4 linked regions of the Homo sapiens genome follow. The protein of the gene in region 2 interacts with the protein of the main gene of each other region in a pairwise test. Each region holds a gene or a part of one and is shown on either strand. Other genes may lie near its edges.

What was found.
Region 1: the proteins of TSGA10IP (region 2) and STX11 interact in binary tests that used the Homo sapiens proteins (3 or more experiments, as listed by UniProt).
Region 3: the proteins of TSGA10IP (region 2) and CRACR2B interact in binary tests that used the Homo sapiens proteins (3 or more experiments, as listed by UniProt).
Region 4: the proteins of TSGA10IP (region 2) and GOLGA6L9 interact in binary tests that used the Homo sapiens proteins (3 or more experiments, as listed by UniProt).

Annotation. Positions count from the first base shown.
Region 1 is NC_000006.12:144,181,517-144,185,016, reverse strand, and holds part of STX11 (syntaxin-11), read right to left. Parts: intron 1-3,500. UniProt on the Homo sapiens protein: SNARE that acts to regulate protein transport between late endosomes and the trans-Golgi network.
Region 2 is NC_000011.10:65,944,106-65,948,279, forward strand, and holds the start of TSGA10IP (testis-specific protein 10-interacting protein), read left to right. Parts: upstream 1-1,374; 5' UTR 1,375-1,570; coding exon 1,571-1,717; exon of another isoform or gene 1,718-1,761; intron 1,762-2,774; coding exon 2,775-2,911; intron 2,912-3,004; coding exon 3,005-3,723; intron 3,724-3,895; coding exon 3,896-4,043; intron 4,044-4,174.
Region 3 is NC_000011.10:826,422-830,718, reverse strand, and holds the start of CRACR2B (EF-hand calcium-binding domain-containing protein 4A), read right to left. Parts: upstream 2,801-4,297; 5' UTR 2,112-2,800; coding exon 1,947-2,111; intron 1,868-1,946; coding exon 1,756-1,867; coding exon of another isoform or gene 1,536-1,755; intron 1,360-1,535; coding exon 1,179-1,359; intron 752-1,178; coding exon of another isoform or gene 734-751; coding exon 587-733; intron 470-586; coding exon 382-469; coding exon of another isoform or gene 99-381; coding exon 6-98; intron 1-5. UniProt on the Homo sapiens protein: Plays a role in store-operated Ca(2+) entry (SOCE).
Region 4 is NC_000015.10:82,428,413-82,432,615, reverse strand, and holds the start of GOLGA6L9 (golgin subfamily A member 6-like protein 9), read right to left. Parts: upstream 2,801-4,203; 5' UTR 2,537-2,800; coding exon 2,453-2,536; intron 1,834-2,452; exon of another isoform or gene 1,722-1,833; intron 787-1,721; coding exon 667-786; exon of another isoform or gene 45-666; coding exon 1-44.

The DNA of each region.
Region 1 (3,500 bases), on a different chromosome or scaffold from region 2:
AAAAGATCCACCCTGGACCAAAACTATGCCTTCACCTGGTCTGAATTTCTTGATATTCAACTGTTTCCTCACTTTGAACAAAATTGAAAGACAAACCACCAACTGGGGAGAAATTATAATATATGACAGACAAGAGGTTAAGATACTTAATATATATATTTCTAAGCTACCAAAAAATCTACTTACCCAAAGACAGTGAAGCAATTCAGAGAAGATGTAAATGACAGAGAACATAAACGTATGTTATATATGCCTGATATTTTCTAGGCATCTTTCATGTGATACCCTCTTTAGTCTTCATACAGATTCTATGAGTAGGTACTGCCATTATCAGAGTTGGTGTGAGCATAGGGAGATCAAGGAATTTACTCAAGGTCATCAGTAAGTGAACACTCAGGCGTTAGAATAGCACCACTTAACCAATGCACTAAATAATCTTTAGCAAAAGTATAAAAATATAGTCACAAAAGACTTCTGTATTAAACAAGGAAATGCAAATTAAACTGCTGAGAATTTTCTTGCCCATAAAGTTAGCAGGAATTTTTTAAAAACAATACTTTTTCAAATGGGTAAGGATTCTGGGAACTCTCAAAACATACTGGTAATTCCATCTCATGCCAGTCAGAATGGTGACTATTAAAATGTCAAGAAACAACAGATGCTGATGGTGGTTGTGAAGAAATAGGAATGCTTTTACACTGTTGGTGGGAATGTGAATTAGTTCAACCATTGTGGAAGACAGTGTGGCAATTCCTCAAAGATTTAGAACTGGAAACACCATTTGAGCCAGCGATCCCATTACTGGGTATATACCCAAAGGAATATAAATCATTCTATTATAAAGACACATGCATGTCAATGTTCACTGCAGCCCTATTCACAATAGCAAAGACACGGAACCAACCCAAATGCCCATCAATGTTAGACTGTACTATACAGCCATAAAGAGGAATGAGATCATGTTCTTTGCAGGGACATGGATGAAGCTGGAAGCCATTATCCTCAGCAAACTAATGCAGGAACAGAAAACCAAACACTGCATGTTCTCACTTATAAGTGGGAGGTGAACAATGAGAACACCTGGACACAGGGAGGGGAATAATGCACAGTGGGGCCTGTCGGGGAAGTGCGGGGGAGGGGAGAGCATTAGGGAAAAGAGCTGATGCATGCTGAGCTTAAAACCTAGGTGATGGGATGATCTGTGCAGCAAACCACCATGGCACATGTTTACCTCTGTAACAAACCTGCGCATCTTGCACGTGTACCCCGGAACTTAAAAACATAAAATAAGATAAAATAATAAAATCAGTATTATTGTTCAGGGTCTTGAGACCTCTCTCAGCTTCTGCTGAACTAAGCAAGTACATTAAATTTTTTTTCTAGATTAAAAAAAAGTCTAATTTAAAACTCCTGTGGTGTCTTTGTTTTTGCAACTTAATGATTTTGCAAACAAAGTCTATTCATTATTTTAAAAAATTGGTAATTGATAGAATCTTTCTGGAAGTCAGTTTAGTAATATGTATCAAAAGCTTTTCAAGTGTGCATTTGTTTTGACATATGTGCATTTATTCTAAAGATATAATGCAAAAGTGTATGAAACTCATTGCTCAAAATATTTTCATCACCACCTTGTTTTTGCAGAAATTCAGAAATAAGTTAAATGCACAATAATGAGGTCCTGGCTTCTACATAAGTCACAGAGTTTAGAAGGCTATCTAATGGCATGAAAAGCATATATACTCTGTTAGGCATAAAAAGTAGTTATGGAGAAAGAGAATGTGCAGCATTCTGAAACAGAAACTTGAGTAATACACATCAAAGTGTTAATTATAGTTTTCTTTGAGTTGTGGAATTATACATGGTTTAAATTGCTTCCTTTTGCTTTTCTGTATTTTCCAAAATTTTTATAATGTCCACACACATTTCATAATTTAAAAACCCCCATAAAACAATAAATACTATTCGTTTAAAGGACTAACTCCTTAGCAACTTTTAAAAGTCTATGCATGGCAATCAAGTTAACATTTTATGCTACCTGGGGAAAGCACATTAGCTAGTTTGCGTAGAGTTGAGCTGTACCCATCTGCTTAAGTTAGTACCCAATATAGTCTACCATGCAACAAGTGGATGAGATGGAATGGATGCATTTTGATGAACAAGGCAAGAATAGGTGAGAGATGCCTTCCTTCCTTACATGTTGGCCAAGCCTTACAAGGCACTTCAATGGAAGGAAATGGGTAGATAAGGGACTGTACCACGCCCTGGGACACTAGGGATCATTTGTATGTATCCTGCTTATCCTAGACAGGTCCTGTGCTCTGTATTGCTCTCCTACAGCCATTAAAAAGCTATTGGGGGAAATCATCTCATCACAATAAGAAGAGTCAAGTACAATTCAATCATATAGAAAATGGTTTTGGAAGATGTCCAGGGACAGTCATTCCTTCTCAAGATTGAACAACCATAAAGTCATAGATAGCAAATTATAAATCAGGTAAGGGCCCAAGCTCATGTGAAGGCGCAAGTCCATAATGTGCTAATAAGAGAAAAAGAAAGGGTACAGGAGACATAAAGATTCTCTATTGAGGTGTGGTAAAGGAGGGAAGGGGGCCTTCACCTGGCCTTCCTGCCCACCTCTCTTGGCTCAGCCAGCCTTGGATGAGTTGTCTCCACTGACATAGAAGGTCTCCTGGTCACCAGGGAGCAAACATTAGGAAAACTACAACAGAAAGTCAACGAAGAGACTGCTATTCCTAAGAATGTCTCCAAAAAGGTTAAAAGTGTATACACTACTGAAGTTATACAAAAATATAGAAGTGGGCACAAATAGAGAATCAAAATAACCTATATATCCCATAGCTTGATTCTGTACTATGAGTTCCTAGAAAGAGAACTATGGTAAATGAGAAAGAAAAATCAGACAATTCCACTGACCTTCCTGTCTTATTGTAATAAAAGATAATGTAATAAACTTTGGTAAATTGCATTCATCAAGTTGCTAAAAATAAGTCCTGCTTCAATTTGCATGGAGGTGAAGAATTCAAAAGAAAATTGACAACCAACTACCAAAAATCTGCTTCTGCTTTCTAATTTTCTTTTCAGGCATGCATATAATCTGTACTGAAAACCAGATCCAATAAGGAAGGAAGGGGGTATTGCTTAAGCCTTTTTTCATTGAGCAATAAAGTTTTGTGTAAGAGAAAACAAAGGAACAAAGAGATGATGGTAGCTCAGTGGTCCTCGGTCTGCAAGAGGTGACAGAATCTTCTGGAGAGCTTCAAAGATTACAGATGCCTGGGCACCTAGAGTTTCTGATTCGGTAGGCCTAGGATGATCTCCAGGTGATTATAATGCATACTCAAATTTGTGACCCATTCCATAGATACCTACCATGTCAGCTTTTTTTTTTTTTTTTTTTTTTTTTGAGGTGGTCTTGCTCTGTTGCCCAGGCTGGAGTGCAGTGGTACTATCTCGGCTCACTGTAACCTCTGCCTCCCGGG
Region 2 (4,174 bases):
GCACCGAGAGGGTACGGGACAAGTGGAGGAGCTGGGATTTGCACCCAAGCGCTTCCTCTATGCTCTTAGCCATGATGCTCTGCTGCCTCAAAAGAACGGCCAGCTAGTGTTAGTAATAATAACATTTACCGATGTCATCGTTTGGGGTTTCATGTAGTCCTTGCAACAAACCTATGAGCTGGGCCCGTGATTCCAGTTTTGCAGAGTGGGGAGTTGGTCACAGAGCTAGTGAGACCAGGCCTCCAGCCCAGTTGGTCCGTCTCCAGGGCCTCAGCTCAGCACCACATCCCTGTACTGCAAGCCTCAGTGGTCAGCACCAGGCGTCCCATGGGGACTTAAGATTCCAAGGCTTTTGAGCACTGCTAGAAGTTTGGGGTAAGATCTTTTACTTTTTTTATATTAAAAAAATATATTTTTTTGAGATGGAGTCTCACTCTTTCGCCCAGGCTGGAGTACACTGGTGTGGCCTCGGCTCACTGCAACCTCCACCTCCCGGGTTCAAGAGAACCCGGAGAGGGAGAGCCTCAGCCTCCCGAGTAGCTGGGATTACAGGTGCCCACCACCATGCCCGGCTAATTTTTGTATTTTTAGTAGAGATAGAGTTTCAATCCAGGTGGGAGATGGGGTTTCACCATGTTGGCCAGGCTGGTCTCCAACTCCTGACCTCAGGCAATCCGCCCACCTCGGCCTCCCAAAGTGCTGGAATTACAGCCACTGCCCGGCCTGGGGTAAGCTTTCAATGTTGTAACTCCCTCCAGAACCTCATGGCCTATGAAGATGGCCAGGTGGGCCTGGGCCCAGGCTCTGAATGGCCTGCTGCCTCTCTCCTGGACACAGCATTCAACTTCCTGGCTGGGGCTGGGAGTGCAAAGATTTGTTTATTTGTTTCTTTTTTATTGAGACAGAGTCTCACTCTGTCGCCCTGGCTGGAGTGCAGTGGTGCAATCTGGGGTCGATGCAGCCTCTGCCTCCCGGGTTCAAGTGATTCTCGTGCCTCAGCCTGAGTAGCTGGGATTACAGGCATGCGCCACCAGGCCTGGCTAATCTTTTTTGCATTTTTGGTAGAGATGGGGTTTTGCCATTTTGGCCAGGCTGGTCTTGAACTCTTGACCTCCAGTGATCCACCTGCCTCAGCCCCCCAAAGTGCTGGGATTACAGGTGTGAGCCACCACTCCCAGCCTGGGAGTGCAAGGATTTAAATAAAATCTTGTGAAAGTTCAGTTTGGCTCCTTCAGGGACTCGGCCAGGCCGGGGGGCAGCACAGGAGACAGGCTGACTCCCCTGTACAGATGGATGGGGAAACACAGGCAGAGTAGGGACAGGGGACTTACACCAGGTCACACGGGGAGCCTGTGGATGAGGCAGAGGCAGGACTTGGGCCTGGGTCTCTGCGCTAAATGACTCCTGGGCATCCTGCTGAACTCTCTCCCAGAAGGAGATTGGCCTCACATACCCCACTGACCCCTTCCTAGCATGCTTTTTGCCAGACCCATTGAGACTGGCTGAGGACTGGTTGCCATAGAGATGGCCTGTTAGGCAGTTCTACGGTGCGGATGGGGGATGGGGCAGGATGGGGCAGGACACCGATATGCTAAATACCTACCAACAGTTGGTTAGGACCCCGTCGGTGCGACCAGGGCAGGACGTGCGGCTCCAGGCTCCAGGAACCAGAACGGGGCTGCTCAAGCTGCTGTCGACCGTCTCTCAGGACAAGCAGGTGAGGGAGGCCCAGTGAGGACACTTCCAGCTGCCTAGAGCCAGGTGGGTCAGGGAGGCCTGGGCTGGGGAGGCCCTTGAGAAGCCACAAGACCTGAGCTGAGGTCCAGATGAAACTCAGGGAGGCAGGAGTGGGACAGGGACCACAGGGAGGCCTAAGGGCCTTGGGAGAAGCCGAGGGATGACGCCCAGGAGTGACTCCCAGGGATGATGGGGCCATTCAGGGAACACTGCGGAAGGAGCAGGTTTCAGGAAAGATGAAGACCACCTTGATGAAGACCACCTTGGTTTCTGCCTTGGCTGTAGCAGGTCCAGGGCCCAGTGGGACATTTGGGAGTGCAGTCCAGGGCCCAGAGGTGGCCTAGCGCAATGGTGACAAATCTGGGCTCCACCACTTCCCAGCTGTGTGACCTCAGTTACTCAGCCTCTCTGAGCCTCAGCTTTCTCCTCCACATGATGGAGGTGATAGTGAGTACCGGCCTCCTAGGGTCCTTGGGAAGGTTACGTGTGTTTATGCATGAAAGTCCTGAGCACACAATAGGTGCTCAGCAGGTGGCAGCTGTTGCTATTTTAATATGCAGAACGGAGGTGGTGCTCGGTCGGGTTTTTTTGTTTGTTTGTTTTTTTGAGATGGAGTTTCACTCTTGTTGCCCAGGCTGGAGTGCAATGACACAATCTCGGCTCACTGCAGCCTCCAACTCCTAGGTTCAAGCGATTGTCCTGCCTCAGCCTCCCAAGTAGCTAGGATTACAGGCGCAGGCCACCACACTCGGCTAATTTTTTTTGTATTTTTAGTACAGATGGGGTTTCGCCATGTTGGCCAGGCTGGTCTCGAACTCCTGGCCTCAGGTGATCCGCCCCCCTTGGCCTCCCAAAGTGCTGGGGTTACAGGTGTGAGCACCACATCCAGCCCTGTTTGGTTGGTTTTTATGGTAACGAGGGCCCAGAGGGACCCAGCCAGGCCCAGCCAGGTGCACAGAGGGAGCACCCGGGTGAGGTGCAACACAGTCCAGGAGGCTGCTCAAGCTGGCTGCTCCTCCCCTACTGTCTCTGCCCAGGGCTGCCTGGGGAGTGGTGATGGTGTGCCAAATCAAGACCTGCAGCAGAGGTCTCAGAGCTCAAGGCAGACAGCAAAGAAGGACCGCAAGCCCAGGGGCCAGAGCAAGAAAGGACAGGGCTCTGAAGAGTCTGAAGAGTAAGCAGCAGTGGGATGGGTCAGGAGGCTGTTGGGGGTCAGGGCCCTCTGGGGGCTGGCGCCGACCCTGACCCCCACCCTTTCCTTCTTCAGTCACTTCCCGCTTCTTCCTCGGAAACCCTCCTTCCCCTTCCAGTGGGCCTGGGAGAGCATCGCCACAGATGTCCGGGCTGTGCTTCAGCCAAGCTCCCCAACCCCTGGCCACCAAGCCCTGCCCATGCCCTCCTCGTTCTCCCAGCGTCAGTCCAGGCGCAAGTCCACGGCCAACCTCCCAGAGGCCCATGGCTGCTGCTGGAAGACAGAGGCGCAAAACCTGAAGGCGAGACAGCAGCTGGGAGCCTGGGGCGGTGTCTCCATCCCTACTGGCAAAGGGGAGCTAGGATCAGAGCCCCCCAGTGGTCTCCAGCTGCCTGGGAGGAGGCCAGGATCAGGATCGGCGTCCGACAAGCAGGTCCAGCTGCAAAGCCTGGGTGCTGAGGAGGCCGAGAGGGGTCTGAGTTCTGGGGTGCTGCCCCAGCGCCCCAGGAGGGGGTCGATCTCAGAGGAGGAGCAATTTTCAGAGGCCACAGAGGAGGCTGAGGAGGGAGAGCACAGGACTCCCTGCAGAAGGAGGGCTGGTTGTCAGAGAAAGGGGCAGATTTCTGGAGAGGAAGCCTCCGATGAGGGAGAAGTGCAGGGCCAGAGCCAGGGGAGCAGCCCCAGCTTCAACAACCTCCGAAGGCGACAATGGAGGAAGACAAGGGCCAAGGAGCTGCAGGGGCCATGGGACCTGGAGAAGCTGCACAGGCAGCTACAGAGAGACCTGGACTGTGGTGAGCGTGGGGCTCAGAGCCTGGATTCCCCCGAAGCTACACCGCAGGGAACAGGGAGCAGTCAGGGAGGCAGGGGCTCAGGCAGGCTGGGCTGTGCTCTGGGTGCTGGGGGGCGTTGCCTGGTGGGCTGAGAGGGAGAGGGCAGCCCCTGACTTGGTCCCACTGTGGGCAGGCCCCCAAAAGCTGCCCTGGAAGACTTTGAGGGCTGCCTTCCAGGCCTCCAAGCGGAATGGAAAGGCCTATGCCTCGGGATACGATGAAACTTTCGTGTCTGCCAACCTCCCTAATCGCACCTTCCACAAACGACAGGAAGCCACCAGGTAAGAGGGAAGAGAAGGGAGTGGGAGCCCAGAATGAGAAGTAGAGATGGAGCCACTTCTCCAAGAGATGCTTAGGCATTTGAACTCTCATTCATTTCTTTATTTATCCATTCACCAAACTTTTGGATCAT
Region 3 (4,297 bases), about 65 Mb from region 2:
CTCACCTCCCGCTGCCGCAGGCCCGCGCGTTCCAGGTCCTGCTCGCGGCTCTGCAGCTCCAGCTCCAGACGGCTTCTCCGCTCCCCGCGGGCGAAGTTCTGGGACGCACGGAGGACCACTGAGCCTCCGCCGGCCGCTCGGCCATGCAAAAGAGGTACACGGAGGGCCAGGGGCTGGGAGTGGGCCCGGGCGGAGCGGGGTCGGGTGGAGAAGACCGGACGGGGGTGATACGTGAGGCCCAGTGGGATCTCCTCGGGCTGAGGGCAGCCTGGACCCGCGGAGGTGGGGCCGTCGGGGAGGGATTAATTCAGAGAAGGCGGAGCCAGGGAGGCCAGCGAGGTGGGATTGGGCCTGGCGGGAGGGGCGGGGCCCGAGGCCCACCTGACTCGGCGGGCGCCGGCTCTGCTCCCGAAGCTGCTCCGTCTCCTCGTACAGAGCGCGCACCTCCCTCTCGTGCTCGCTCTCGCGCCTTCGGGGGACCGGGCGACCCCGGATGAGAACTTGCCAGCGCTACAGCCCCCTGGCACCGCCTCTGCTGCTGCCCTGAGGCCCTCCATTGGCCCCCATACCCCACCCCGGCCCTCACCTCCGCAGCGCCTGCTCCAGGCCGTCGCGCTCCCGGGCCGCCTCCTCCAGGCAGGCCGACGCGCGTATCAGAACATCCTCGAAAGAGCCCAGCAGCTCGGGGCGCTCGCGCTGCAGCCTGGCCCAGAGCGTCCTCACAGCCCGCTGCCTGGAGGGCGGGCGGGAACTGAGGCTGGAGCTGGCAGAAGCGGGAAGCAGGCTTCCCTCCGCCAGCAGCAAACCCTTAGGAGACTTCTTCGCCCCTGGGCAGGACAGGAGCACTTGCTGCGTGCAGGGCATCCCTCCCGTGAGCGCTTTCGCCCCTGCCCGGCGTGCGTGGTCGGTGAGGTGTGTGTACCCTGGGCAGTGCCGGTATGTGGCCCCGCGCCCGGCGCTGCCCCTCCTCCCTGCAGCCCTGGCTGCTGCCTCATGAAATGCAAATTCTGCGGGAAATCATGCCGGGTCCCTCCCAGGGAATCGCAGCTGACGCTAGGCTGGGCCTGACCCGGCCTAGAGACCCTGTGCAGAACCAGCACTCGGGTGACAAGGGCAGACAGCATGCAGGCAGAGAAACAGCAGAGCGGGCAGTGGGAGCGGGGCCAGCGCCGACTCACTTGCCCAGGACCGGGGCCACCCCCAGCTGCTCCAGCACAGTGTGGAATCGCTCCTCCTCTTCCTCCTCCTCATCCAGAGAGCCCGCCGTGCCCTGCACGTCGAGCCCGCCCGACTCAAAGGTCTCCTCGGGAGTCCTGCAGGGGTTCGCTCCCTGGGCTGACGCCACCCCCACAAACATCCCTGCGGGCATGGAGCGAGCGATTACCAGGGCTGTGGGTCGCCACCGTGGCTGTGTCCCCGTTCACCCTCCCAACGAGTATCCTGCCCTCTCTCAGGGCCCAGTTTCCTGTTTTCCTTCCTTATTCTGGTCCTATTGGCCTGGAAACAAGAGGTGACAGGCCAGCTCCCAGCCCTACCGGAGCTTAGCACAGGAGAGGAGCTGGGGGCCAGGAAGGTCAGCTCCACACACTCCACCGCAGCTAGGAGCCCCCAGGCGCGAGTGCGTGCAGACAAAGCACGGGCCCTGGAGGGAGGAGGACGAGAGGCACCGGCAGCCCTCAGGGCGCCACAAGTGCCAGGCCTCCTGATCAGGCCTCCAGCTCTGGGCAGTGGGGGATAGGCAGGCCACAGGCTCACCCAGGCCCAGGCAGAACTCCCTGGCGGTGAGGAAGCCAGTGTGAGCCCGGTCCAGACTTTCAAACACAGCCTCCAGCTGCTCTGGCGTGAGGGGCAGGTCGCTCTGGAGACCCTGGTCGGGGAAGGAGAGCAGAGATGAGCCGCTGCGGTCAACCCAGGGCCGAAGCAGTCTCTTGGGGTGGGGGACTCACCTGCAGGTCGTGCTTGGTGATGAAGCCCTTAGCCTCCTTGTCACACAGCAGAAACAGCTCCTCAGCCTGCTCCAGTATTGCAGCCCGCGGCCCTGCAGAGCCCCCCTCGAGTTCCCCCTCCTCCTCCTGGGCCTCATCAGCCCCAGGCTTTCCAGGGCTGGCCATGAGAGCAGGGGGCCTCAGCCTGGCCTTCAGGTGCTGTGAAGCCAAGGGAGGGTCAGAAGAAATTCAGGAGGGGAGCGGATGGGGTGCAAGTGTGTCTGAAGGCTCAGCCGAGGGCCCTCCCTGCAGCAGGTGGGAAGGTGGGCGGAAGGCAAGGTGGGACCAGGGGGCTGGGGGTGGAAAATGCTGCAGGCTTGGGGTGTCACTGGGGTGGTTGATGTAGGCTCAGGGCCTGTGGGTACTGCCCCAGTGGGTCTGGCATCTCAGGAGGCTGGAACCCAGGAGGGGCTGCCAACTTCAGGAGAGGAGGAGCTGGAGGTGATGGCAATCTCAGGGGCCAGTGGAGAAGACCTGGTGATAAGGAAGGTGGGGTCCTGAAAGCTGAGAGGAGCAGGCTTGGGGTCAGTGAGGGAGGAGCCCCTCACACTCTGCAACTGGAGATCTGATCCCAAGTGAGGGCTCAGCCAGTCCTGACCAAGTCCTTAGCCCCTGGCCTGGGCCTGTGTGGCCCAGCCTCATGACAGCTGGCAGGCAGGGCAGACTTCTCCCTCCTGCCCACCGGCCCCTCCCTCCCCACAACTGAGCCCACAGAGTGCAGGGGCAAGGTCCCAGCCTGCAGAGCCCTTCGCCTCTGACGCCCCACTCAGGAACACTTCCAGATTCGAGACCTAACACCCTTGCCCCACAACACTGAGGCCCTTCCCCGTTTCAGAACTCCCTGGGGCCTCCCTTCCCACCTCCTTGCAGGGACGCCCCGCCCCCTAACCAGAGCCACCTGTCCTTCACACAATGTCCTGATCCCGGATTTCCCAAAGCTGCTCCCCACCAACACCCGCCTTCCCCCACCGGGGAGCTGGGATCCTCTCCCCTCACTCTCCACCCAGCGTCCTTCCATGTTCCTTAGCCCGGGCGACCTCCAAAGAGGGCAAGTCTGGGCGGGTGAGAGAAGGGGACACGAGAGGCCAGGGCCATTGCCTCCAGGCCACGTTGTTGTCTCGCCCGCCCTCCGGCTTGCCGGCTAGACCTGAGGTCCACCCCAGCCGGAAGCCGCGCGGCAGCAGGGCCCCAGGGAGGTGGGAGGATGGGCTGGTGGGGTGGGGCGGCCAGCCTCCTGTGCTCCCCGAAACTCTGGGGGACAACCCCGCCCTTACCCCTGCCGCCTTGCGCCCCGAGGGGGTAACCGGAGTTCCCGACCGAGACGCTCAGGTTTGGCGCGGGCCACGGCGGCCCGGAGGGGGTGCCGGGCGGGCGGCAGTGGAGGGGCCTCAGCGGCGGGACCAGCGGTCGCCTACCCGCGAGTTGCGCCGCCGCACCTGCCGCGCGCCCGGGCCGCTCCTCCCGGAAACACTGGGCGCGCCCCGCCCCAGCTGGGACCCGGACGGGACGTAGAGGGCACTGGGCCCCGAGCGACCCCTGCCGCTTCGCAGGCACCGAGACCCCCGCTTGGGCCGGCCCCGGGAGGAGCCACTCTGCGCCGCTGTCGCCTGTCCCCGCCTCTCTGCGCTGCCCCGGCGGCCCGATCCCTGGAGGCTCGAGCGAGCAGTGAAGCAACGATATGCCCCAGAGACCCAGGGACCCCCCGGAGCAGGGACAAGGCTGCGGGGGGCGGGCGCAGACACCAGCGCCTGGGAGGGGCCCCTCCTGTCCGGGGGGAGCCCGACTTAAGGCGCCAAAAAGTGTGTGTAGGAAAAAGCCGGGCAGGAAACAGACCAAATACTTTCAGCGGTTATCTCTAGGGGTGGGGAGCCTTTACTTTCTTCTCTATACTTTCCCGGTTTTTAAACAATAAACATGTAGGCCGGGCGCCTGTAATCCCAGCACTTTGGGGGGCTGAGACAGGGGCAGATCACCTGAGGTCAGGAGTTCGAGACCAGCCTGCCCAACATGGCGAAACCCCGTCTCTACTAAAAATACAAAAAATTAGCCAGGTGTGGTGGTGGGCGCCTGTAATCCCAGCACTTTGGGAGGCTGAGCCAGGAGAATCACTTGAACTCGGGAGGCAGAGTTTGCAGTGAGCCGAGATTGTGCCATTGCACTGGGCAACAAGAACGAAACTCCATCTCAAAACAAAACAATGAACGTGTAATGCTAGAAAATGTTTAACTTAGCAGTATTCAGTGTATATGTATGGGTGAACGAGCTGGGGACTCAGGCAGGTCCCACCTCAGTAGCCCCTCCTGGCTCTCCTT
Region 4 (4,203 bases), on a different chromosome or scaffold from region 2:
GTAGTAGAGGATGCACGGCCCTCCCCGTAGATACCTGTTGCTGACTCCAAGAGATGAGAGTGCACATGGAGATGTTCTGTCCCCCCTCACTGTCTAAGCCCTCTGACTTCCTTTCTTCCCCCATCAACTGGCAAAAGCTTCTTTTCTGCCTATCTTGGAACCTTTTTCCCATAACTCCTTTGTGCCAACTTCTCTCGTGGTTCTTATCTCCCCACCATCCCACCCTGGGGCCCTTTCAGTGACTCCTAAAGGGACAGCCTGATGGCAAGTGGCTCTTCTCATTGGCCTGGCTTCCCCTTGAGACTGGGGATGAGGAAAATCAAACAGCAACGACCATTTCCTCGGTGTCCTGGGTGTTTGCAGCAGGCCATGTACTAAGGATTCACATAAAAGCAACAATAACGAATCTCATTTAAACTTCACAAATGGAAGTCAAAAAATACCACCTCTATTATACAGATGTGAAAAGAGAGGCCCAAAGACCTCAAGCAACTTGCCCTAAATCATATGCTAATCAATCCCTAATCAATTCTTAGCAGACGGAGAGGCAGGATTCAAATCCAGAATTCTTAACCAGTACCCAACAGTCCATCTACAATCTTAACAATTACCCTCTACTGCCCCTTGGGCTCCCTGTCCCCAGGAGCCTGGCCCGCCGAGACTCACATCCCCAGGTGAGTGGTAACCACCAGAAGTGAATGTGTCAGGGCTACTGCCATTGATTTTCTTTTTCCTGTTAGCTCCTGCTGGAATGCCAGGGCTCTTCCTCTGCCAATATGCTTTTAACTGTGGGAAAGAAGAGCAGTAACACTCATGAGAATGATCAGCCCCTACAGCCACATCCTCCTTTACAGTTTTGACAAAATACCCTTATATACCATCTGATGTAATGCCACCAACAACTGTACAAGGTGTTGTCACAATCACTTAGTGACTGAGAGGGATTGATATCATGGATAGAAAAAAAAAAAAAGAAAGATCAAAAAAGGCAATACTGGAACTTAAACTCAGTCCTCTGACTCCAAGCTCTGGGGTTTTGCCATGAATCAGCAGCTTCCAGGGACCAAAACCAGGGGCAGAGGTAGAAAAGCACACATTAAGCAGGCAGGAACTGTAGGCCGTGTGGTTTAGAGTCATACATCCTCACAGGTCTGCTAGCGTGAAGAAGCGTACCAGTACCTCTCACACTTTCATATCAATGTGTCCTCATGGCAGAAGGCAGCTTTTCTATTAAATCTGGGAATTTATCAGAAAGAGGACAACCCAAGCCTCATTTCAGAGCGAAGTCTGGTATACGCTTGGAAACCTATGTGTCTGTCATCCCTAAGTACATTAATGCATTTTCTCAAGAGAATCAAGGGAAAATGATGCTTCAGAAAGATGTCCCGCATTTATCCTGTGGCACTCAAAGTACCCCAGGTTGAGACGATATGAGGAAGATTCAAGCTGTCAAGTTCAGTTTCCCAAGATCTATTCCACAGAAGATGAGCAAATCTCACTTCAGAGGCCACTGACTGAAGGGCAGTCTGGTCCCAGAACCGTGGAGAACTCAGAAAAAAATGTTAAAGTCTCTCTGGAAAGTAGAAGCCTGGGAAAAAACCAAACCAAACCCATTCTCCCATTGCCACCCAGAGATACTGTGAACATTTTGAGCTCACAGGGGAAGTGTAGGCTTTTCCCACTGTCAATGTCTATGTTAAGGGAGTAAGGCAGCCTGAAACCTCTTGCTCCTAGGTCCCATAGTCTCCACTCCCCTTCCAGCTGGAAATTTGTGCTGCAACCAGAGGAACCAGAAATGGGGTGAGAAAACTTAGGGGACTGGGTTGTAAGATCAAAGGCCGGTCTTGCAGCAGTAATGACAGTTCCTAGGGGCACTGTGACATCATTGCATTCCACTCCTCCCAGGGGAGGGGACCACATCAGCGCGATGCCCGAGTCGCTGCTCCACGATGGGGGAGGGAAACACACGGTTTCGACCCAGGTCCTCAGAGACGCCAGCCCAAGAAGCCTAGGGAGGTCGAGCTTGGGGCAGCAGGAGGGGAGGGCAGAGTCTGCAGTAGGGAGCCCCGGGAGTCACCAGCCCAAAGCCACCCAGGGATGACTGGTGAGGGCAGGGCCTGGGGCTGGGGGACCCAGGTCCTGGGAGACGCAAGCCCAAAGAGCCCAGGGAGGTTGGGCTTGGGGTGGCAGGAGGTGAGGGCTGATTATGGAGCAGGGAGCCCCAGGAGTCACCTGCCCAAAGTCACCCTGGGGTGATTGGCAAGGGCAGGGACTGGGCTGCTTGCTGAAGGGGTGGGGCTGACTGACTAGGCTTTGGTTGGGGGAGCCCAGAGGGGCTGGGGTTGGGGGGCCCCATCTGGTATGCCTCAGGAGTGGTATGGACTCTGGCACCGGTCTTGTCATCGGAGGGGATCTGTGGCTGGGTTGGGGGCCATGACCTGGTGTGTTTTACCTTTTTCTTGGCTGCGGCCAATTTCCCCTGTTGTGTTTTTTCTGACATCGCGGGGTGGGGAGGGAGGCGGGGTTGGGGCCACATCAGCGAAATACCAGTGAGCACTGCTCAATGCCTCCAGTCACCTACCAGGCAGCTGTGCAACTGAGCCACAGGTGGCGTAACCAGGGCACCAATGGAACGCAGAATAGGGGCGTGGCCTTAATGTTCCAAGCCCATTGGTCAGTGAGAAAGATGAAAGGGAAAGGAGGCGTGGCCAGGCGCAGCATGTCCAGAGGGACCTGTAGCATCATAAGGAAAGCTGCCCATGCAACCGCTGTCCCCGCCCACTCAGAGAGAGGGGAGAGGCCGCCCACTCTGGGAGAGGGGAGGGGCTGGCTTTTGCTTTAAAAGCTTTAAAACTGTTAAAAATAAACTTTAAAAAATATATGTGTATATACTTTATATATGTGTGTCTGTGTGTATCTATGTGTTCCTCCAGAGCTGTCTTCATTATGCAGCTTCTATGCAAAGTCTATGATTTTGGCCTATATTTTTCATCTTCAAATGGAGCACAAGAATTACAAGTATTACCTTAACTGAGATATAGACCCTATAAAAATGGAAAATCCATAGCATTCTTGATGATTAATGAAGCTGACTATAGTATCCGACATTCCAATAACAGAGAATAATCACAACAATTTCTCTTTTTTGGAAAAATGTTTGTCTTATTCTCCTACATTATTGTTAAGATTTCTTTTAAAAACAAGAAACATGTCTAATATCTTTAAAAACACAAAGCTTTTGGGCCAGGTGCGGTGGCTCACCCCTGTAATGCCATCACTTTGGGAGGCCGAGGTGGGTGGATGACCTGAGGTCAGGAGTTCGAGACCAGCCTGGCCAACATGAAGAAACCCTGTCTCTACTAAAAATACAAAAACTAACCAGGTGTGGTGGTGGGTGCTTGTAATCCCAGCTATTTGGGAGGCTGAGGCAGGAGAATCACTTGAACCCAGGAGATGGAGGTTGCAGTGAGCCAAGCTCATGCCACTGCACTCCAGCCTGGGTGACAGAGCAAGACTCCATCTCAAAAGAAATAAAATAAAATAAAATAAGATACAAAATAAGTAGGAACACAAAACTTACAATTTAATAAGCACTTAAAGCTCTTTACTGGTTTAAAACAAATACAAGGCCCATTTTTCTAGAATCACCAGGCCACTCTAGGCCTTGCAAATGAAACTGAATTTCTCACTTGATACCTGGCTATGACTTGCAATCATGAAAACCAAGAATTGTGTTATGTCACTGTGTACTGCTTGTTACCTGAAATCCACACTAGGCTGGGATCAAGGGTTGAATCTTTCATGATTTTTCTCCATAACCTGTGTGCTTCTTATCCCAGACTGAACTAAGCTTTTTTCTAGAGTTCTACAATTTACACTTAATAGACAAGAGTGGTTCTCAAAATGTAGTCTATGGACTAGCAGCACCAGCAGCACCTGAGACCTTTTTATAAGTGCAAATTCTCAGGCCCCACCCTGGACCTGGTGAATCAGAAACTCTGGAGTAGGGTTCAGCAATCTGTGCTGCAGTAATCCCTCCAAGTGTTCAAGAACCTCTGGCATACAGCAGGTAGAAAAATGTGTTTCCTTCTGTAGGTCCAAAGCCAGGGTTACCATATGTTCTGCCTTGTTATGAAACAATGACATGCAATTAAAAGACAAGAATCTCCTTCCTACTCGCACCCTCCATCCAATGTGTTTTAT